2 linked regions of the Homo sapiens genome follow. The protein of the gene in region 2 purifies or fractionates together with the protein of the main gene of each other region. This does not show direct contact. Each region holds a gene or a part of one and is shown on either strand. Other genes may lie near its edges.

Region 1 (3,655 bases), on a different chromosome or scaffold from region 2:
GTGGGGGGCACAAGATTACAAGAACACATTGTTCCTTACAGTGTGTGCAGAGTGTAGTTAAGTCGTTTTTAATTCCTATGGGACTTTGTTGCCTTTCAGTTTTTCGAGAACAGTTCTTGAGCTAATTGGAGGGTAGCTGGCTAGTTTGGCTCATTGGGATTGTCTTCGTGTCCTGTTTGGGCATTTGTCTGATTGATGGTCCTGAATGGACCATCCCTGGCAGATGAGGTGAATTAACTATAATTGGCATTCTTCTCTCTGACCCCTTCACTCCCTGATCAATGTAGGTGTCTGTGCTTCAGGTGAAGAGATGCTGAGCCTTGTTCATAATAAAATACATGCAAATTAAGACTAGATTGAGCTCCCACCTTTCACCTTCAGACAGGTGATAACCCCCAAGTATACAAAGTCTGTTTCAAGTTTGAAATATTTGAACGGCAAGGTCGTTTCAAACATTTACGGGTAAGAGTGTAAAGTAGCCACAGGCAGGGTCAGCCCATGTCCTGTTGGCTCAGATCCGTTTCTTGCCCTTTCCCTGCAGGGACTCACCCCTGCAGGCAACATTTCCCAGGCCCTTGGTCAGCTGGCTTCCGGCTGGGATTGGCCACTGGGAGCCACTGGCAGGAGGAATGGCAGGAAGAAGGACAAAAACAGGTTATTTCCCTTAGGCCTGCCTCAGGGAGTGTCTCTGGCAGGTACCTTGTCTCCTTTTGGCTCCAGCTCCTGCCCCTTGGTCCTAGCCTTTGAGTCTTGGAAATACCTCCTCCCTTTTACCCTCTATTTGAGAAGTGGTAACAGCAGCTTGCTCTTGATAATCTTTGTATTATCATTTCCTGTTTGGCTTTTCAGTTTTTCCATCACCCCTGTCACTAATTCCTTATATTAAATTCCCTCTATATCAGATTCTTAAAGGGATGGTTTCTCTGGATGTCTCTGTTTCTCTGGGTGGACCCTGATAGATACAGGTGCTTTAGGCAGTAGCTTTAAAAATTACAGGCGTGTAAATCCTTTGACCCAGCAATCCAGTTCTAGGAATTTAACCTGCAGATATATTTGTACACGTGTGAGATAACATAGGTACAAGATTATTTATTGCCTTGAGTGTCCATCAGCAAGCAAGAGACTTATCAGATAAATCCATGCCCAGATGGTTAATGAGGTTGTAAAGTTGTAGAAAGGAACGAGGAAGCTCTTTTCTTAGTTGACATGGAGAGATCTCCAAAATATCTTAAGTTACAAGAGCAGGCCGGGCGCGGCGGCTCTCACCTATAATCCTAGCACTTTGGGAGGCCGAGGCGGGTGGATCATTTGAGGTCAGGAATTCAAGACCAGCCTGGGCAGCATGGTGAAACTCCGTTTCTACTAAAAAAATACAAAAATTAGCCGGGAGTGGTGGTGCGTGCCTGTAATCTCAGCTACGCGGGAGGCTGAGGCAGGAGAATCGCTTGAGCCTGGGAGGTGCAGGTTGCGGTGAGTGAGATTGCGCCACTGCATTCCAGTCTGGGCAACAGAGTGAGACCCTGTCTCAAAAAAACAAAACAAAATTACAAGAGCAAAGTGTAGGAAAGTGTGCATTGCGTGCTCCCATTCTTGTGTTTTGAAAGAGGAGGTAATGGCTGATGCATGCAGATTCCCTGGAAGGTGAAAGGAGGAACCAATAACAATGGTTACCTGATTGGGGAAGATGATGGGAACTGAGTGGATGGGGAATATAGGTGGGAAGGAAACTTTTCACTATGCGCCTTTTTATTTTTTGAAATTCAAAAAAGTTTGAATAATCTGTCTTCACTTTTTCTAAAATTGGAAAGCAGTTTCATAGAAAAATAGTATGATGGTAAGAAAATACCCATTTTACACCTTTTTTGAGGGAATTTTTATAGATTAAAAAATACAGCTGGGCGCAATGGCTCACGCCTGTAATCCCAGCACTTTGGGAGGCCAAGGCGGGTAGATCATGAGGTCAGGAGTTCGAGACCAGTCTGGCCAATGTGGTGAAACCCCGTCTCTACTAAAAATACAAAAATTAGCCGGGCATAGTGATGCGCACCTGTAGTCCCAGCTGCTCGAGAGGCTGAGGCAGGAGAATTGCTTGAACCCTGGAGGCAGAGGTTGCAATGAGCCGAGATAGCGCCACTGCCTGGCGACAGAGTGAGACTCGGTCTCAAAACAAACAAACAAAATATTCTGGGAAGACCGCAACAAAAAGATAATGTGATATGCAATGTAAGGTTATAAAATGTTACCTATTTTTCATTCTGTAGTAAGTTAACTACTGTATTTTTGAGAGTTTAAAAAGTGGATGCTTTTAGATTATGCTTAGAGTATATTCTTTTGTAGTCATTTACTCAAATGTTGATGGTGTCTCTACCAAATACCAGGTTCTATGCATGGCACAAGAGCTATTAGTGCCTGTGTCATGCCGTTTTTGCATTGCTATAAAGAAGTACCTGAGCCTGGGTTATATATAAAGGAAAGAGGTTTCATGGACTCATGGTTGTGCAGGCTGTAGCTGTACAGGCATGGTGCCAGCATCTGCTCGGCTCCTGGGGAGGCCTCAGGGAGCTTTTTACTCATAATGGAAGGTGAAGCAGGATCAGGCACATCACATGGCTAGAGCAGGAGCAAGAGGGAAGAGATGCCACGCCCTTAAACGACCAGATCTCAGGAGTCCTCACTCACTATTGCAAGGGCAGCACTGAGCCATGAGGGATCTGCCTCCATGATCCTGTCGCCTCCCCTCCAAGTCCTGCCTCCAGCATTGGGGATTACAGTTCAACATGAGATTTGGGCGGGGCATATATCCAAACTGTATCAGTGCCTAACAGTGGTGAATACGGCAGATAAATTTCCCACGTTCATGGAGCTCATGTTTAGATGGAGAGACAGACAAAAGAGGTAAACAGCTATATATAAAATAATCATGTATTATGCTAGATGTGTTAAAGGAAATCAACAAGAGGTTGAGGAAGAGAAAGTGTGGGATGGGAGAGGTGTAGGGAAAGCCCGTGGCCAGGGAAGGCCTCTGAGGAAATGCCCTTCGAGGTGCAATCTATAGGGGTAGTGGACCAGACAGAAGGGAAGGCATGGAGCTGGCAAGAGCTGAGTATTCTAGAGAATTAAAAGCAGCTTTGTGTGGCTTGAACAGACAGTGAAGCGGGAGAGATAGACTGGGGCCATGTCAGGCTTTCAGTAGCTAAGGAATGCAGATTTTATTCTAAGTACATGAAGCCGCTGAAAGATTTTTAAACGGGGAAATCTCATTTGATTTACATTTCAATAATTTTAGCTAATATTTACTTGATGCTGTATGTCCTGTGTACTTTCTGCGTCTTAATTTATTGACTCTTCATCATATTGCTATTTTCAGATTGGAAAATGGAGGCATAGGGAAGCTAAGTAATTGGTCTGAAATTTCACAGCTAGCAGGTGATGGAGCTGTGATTGGAACCCAAGCCTTCCATTTCAGAATCCGTATTCTCAACCACTGCCCCCTGCTTTTTAAAGAAGCATATTCTTGACTCCTGAGTGGAGAGTGGTTTGGAGGAGAAGGGAGGACTTGGGAGAAGGGAGGTGTTGCAGTGGTTCAGGTGAGAGTTACGGGGCTTGGTGGGTTAGGGTGGTAGTGGGAAATATGGAGGGAAGGATATATATAAAA
Region 2 (3,655 bases):
GCATCAGTCTCCATCACATATTCCTGTAGAAGCAACTCCCCTAGCTACAGTCCCAACAGGAGAAGTTCCAGTAGGGAAGAGCCTGAAACTGAAATGTGTTGCAAGAAGGTCCTAAATGGTAGCTTCTTAGAGGGACATAGGGATCCTTGGGGTTATTTCAGTGAGCAGGATGCTGATTGATTCCAAATGGGTTCTAGGCTTGTTTAGTATGTCTCTAACACTACAAGGGGCACAGTGGACATTAGAGGCTCAAGAGAGGTACCCTAGCATCCCAGAGAATCACTATAGATTGATGATTCATCATAAAACTTTCTATCAAGTGATTTTTGTCCTCAGTTACTACATTTTACTGTTATTCCTTTCTCTGTCCCAATTTTATTTGCAAGGTACATTCCTACTTTGTATTACATGATGGACCTAACTAGGTATGACCTGACTGATTTGAGATTTACATTAAATATTACTAGAAATGATGGAGTAATCTTACCTTTTCCAGAGAATAGAAAAGAGCTTAGGGACTTTTCATGCAAGATATACACATTGCTGAAAGTCCAGGAATATTATCCAAATAGAAATGTCTGGATATGATGCTTTTCTCACTTTGACTAATTTTTCAAATTCCAGTCCCTCTAAATGGATTTTACTCTCCCCCATAAGTAAACTTAAGTTGCAGCATGTAAAGAACAAGTACACATCCAGGCAGCCAGTCCTAGGGACGAAGTCAGCCCACTTCCATCTTGCCTAATTTGTCCTGTAATTCTGACTCTCATCTTGGATTTTTCACACCATCTCATCTACACTTTTGGAGTTGACTCACTACATCACACAGTGCCTGATTCCATTAATAAGACCCATCTTGATGCAATACACATTTTGAATCCAACATTCTGGATTGACCTCAGTAGCATGCTTCTCTGGAATGCTGTTTTAGTGCTCGATCTCTGACTCCTGTGCACCACAATGGCAGGAAAAAAAAACCCCACTTCTCCACCGGTTTCATTTTGTGTGCTTTGAAACTGATGGAACTGTACTGTGTAGAATACAATGTTGGTATAGAAAGCATGTACATTGATTACCCATGATATAGTAAATATCTATTTTTAAAAGCAGTCAAAGACAGACTCAGCCTAATGATGTGACAGTAGATATAAAAGAATATAAAGCTTCAGTGCCTTAGTGCAATTCATACAAATTTGCTTATGTTTCATTTTTGTTAAGATTCCTGGAAATATAAATACAAGCATTGTATCTGGACTTTAGTATGGCTTGGAAGAATTTTTTCTGATGTCTTGGTGGAGAAGATAAAGACCTGTGAATGGAATAATAATTTGGAGCTAGAAACCAATTTACTGACCCCTGGGCAAGGGAATTTCTATCAGAATATGTGACTAGTAAGGGACCTCAACACTGAGCAATCAGTGGAAGATTTATGGAGAAATTAAAAAATAATATTTACAGGCTGGTGCAGTGGCTCACGACTGTAACCCCAGCACTTTGGGAGGCTGAGGTGGGTGGATCACCTGAGGTCAGGAGTTCGAGACCAGCCTGGGCAAAGTGATGAAACCCTGTCTACTAAAAATACAAAAATTAGTGGGGCATGGTGGCAGGTGCCTGTAATCCCAGCTACAGACTGAAGCAGGCGAATCACTTGAACCCACTGGGTGGAGGTTGCAATGAGTCGAGATCATACCATTGCACTCCAGCCTGGACAACGAGCAAAACTCCGTCTCAAAAGAAAAAAAAAAAAGGATGGAGCTATTTTTCAACGGTATAGGAATAAAGCATTGAGCTTCTCATCACCAGAAAGATGAGTCACACTGGATGACCCACATAAAAGATGCTATAGAAGGGGACTCCCTAATGGTGTGTGTGCATGTGTAGCAGAAGGGCTATGTGATCTCTAAGGTCTTTTCCAACTTAGACATGGATAAGGGTCATCAGTGCAGTGTCATCTCATTTAAAAAAGAAAGCAATAATTTCTTCATTCAACAAATATGTACTGGGTACATACTCTTGTGATTACAAGAACTGAGATGATTAATCCTCCCTGAGCTCCTTGAGAAACCACCCACTTGAAAAGGAGTAAGGGGAAAACTGGGAAATAAAACCCCAGGTAGGTTTTATTTTAAACCTCAGGAGTTGGGAAAAACCCAGGAGGGAGAGTAAGATGCATCACTTGGATCTATTTGAGAAGGGAAAACTAGGTTAAAGGAGAAAAAAGCAGAACTGGAGTTATAATTTATCTTTTCATTATCTCTAGCATAGAGATACTACAATGCATAAAAAAGAAATGAAAAATTTAGAATTCATTGATCACTAATCAATTCTATGATTCTATTTAGGACTGTCAAATCTCTAATGAGCTTTTTTGCTCTTTCGCCTGTATCCTTTCAATCTGTATAGCTATAGCTGCATCATATACCTTTAAAGATTCTGTTCCAATTGTCATCTATTCTTTTATAAATTGGGAGAAATCCTGAAGCTGTAGACCATCAATTCAAGGGGTCAATATCAAGTCAGCATAGATACTGGCCCTGCTCTGAATTTGAATCTTTGCTTGATTAATTTATCATACATGGTGAATCTAGGCTATGCTGTAACGAAGGGATCCCCAAAAGTATAATAGCTCACAAACAGCAGTTTTTTTCCTGTTTAGGCATCAGTACTGAAAGGGGAAGCAATACAGTGGGGTGACCCTTCTTCATATAGTCATTCAGAGAACCCAGGATGGTGGGAGCTATGCCATCTTCAACACATGGCTCTCAAGACCACCTTACAGTTGTCTCCCTTCTAGCAAAATAGAAAGGAAAAAGGGCACATGTGGGAGGTTCTAGTGGGCCCATTCTGAAAGAGGCACACATCACTCAACTCACATTCTTTTGACTGAACCCAGTCACATGCTGATATGGTTTGGCTGTGTCCCCACCCAAATCTCACCTTGAATTGTAGCTCCCATAATCCCCATGTGTCATGAGAGGACCCAATGGAGGGTAATTGAATCATGGGAGCAGGTTTTTCCTGTGCTGTTCTCATGATAGTGAGCAAGTCTCATGAGATCTGATGGTTTTATAAAGGGCAGTTCCCCTGCACACACGCTCTTGCCTGCTGCCATGTAAGGTGTGCCTTTGCTCCTCCTTCACCTTCTGCCATGATTGTGAGGCCTCCCCAGCCATGTGAAACTGTGAGTTCATGAAACCTCTTTTTCTTTATAAATTACCCAGTCTCGGATATTTCTTCATAGCAGTATGAAAATGGACTAATACACATGCCATACCTAACTGCAAGGGAGGCTGAGAAATATCCTACAGGTTACATAGAAATAAGAAAATAAAATAGATTTTAGAGCACTTAGTACTTTCTGCCATACCTGGACTTCTGTTCTACTGTGGGAAGACTTCTTCCTCCAAACCCACAGTTCCTGTTGCTGTAAACCTGGTATAGCCTGCTAGATCTGCTTGATGTTAATTTTACTGCAGCCTTGACCATTGCTAATTTCAGTCTTCAGGTTGCAAACTATAGAACTTGACCCTAGGTAATTTAAGCTGAAAAATAATTTATTAGAAACACAACAGATAACTCACTAAATTGACAGGAAGGCTAGAGAATCAGGCTCAGAAAAAGGGAACTAAAGGAAGTTGGTTGGCCAGAAACCCAT

What was found. The genes of interacting proteins can lie anywhere in the genome.
Region 1: the proteins of SCHIP1 (region 2) and CYTH3 purify together in Homo sapiens (affinity purification with mass spectrometry; one large-scale study listed by BioGRID and IntAct). This does not show direct contact.

What each region holds. Positions count from the first base shown.
Region 1 is NC_000007.14:6,266,059-6,269,713, reverse strand, and holds part of CYTH3 (cytohesin-3), read left to right. Parts: intron 1-3,655. UniProt on the Homo sapiens protein: Promotes guanine-nucleotide exchange on ARF1 and ARF6. Promotes the activation of ARF factors through replacement of GDP with GTP. Plays a role in the epithelial polarization.
Region 2 is NC_000003.12:159,276,184-159,279,838, forward strand, and holds part of SCHIP1 (schwannomin-interacting protein 1), read left to right. Parts: intron 1-3,655.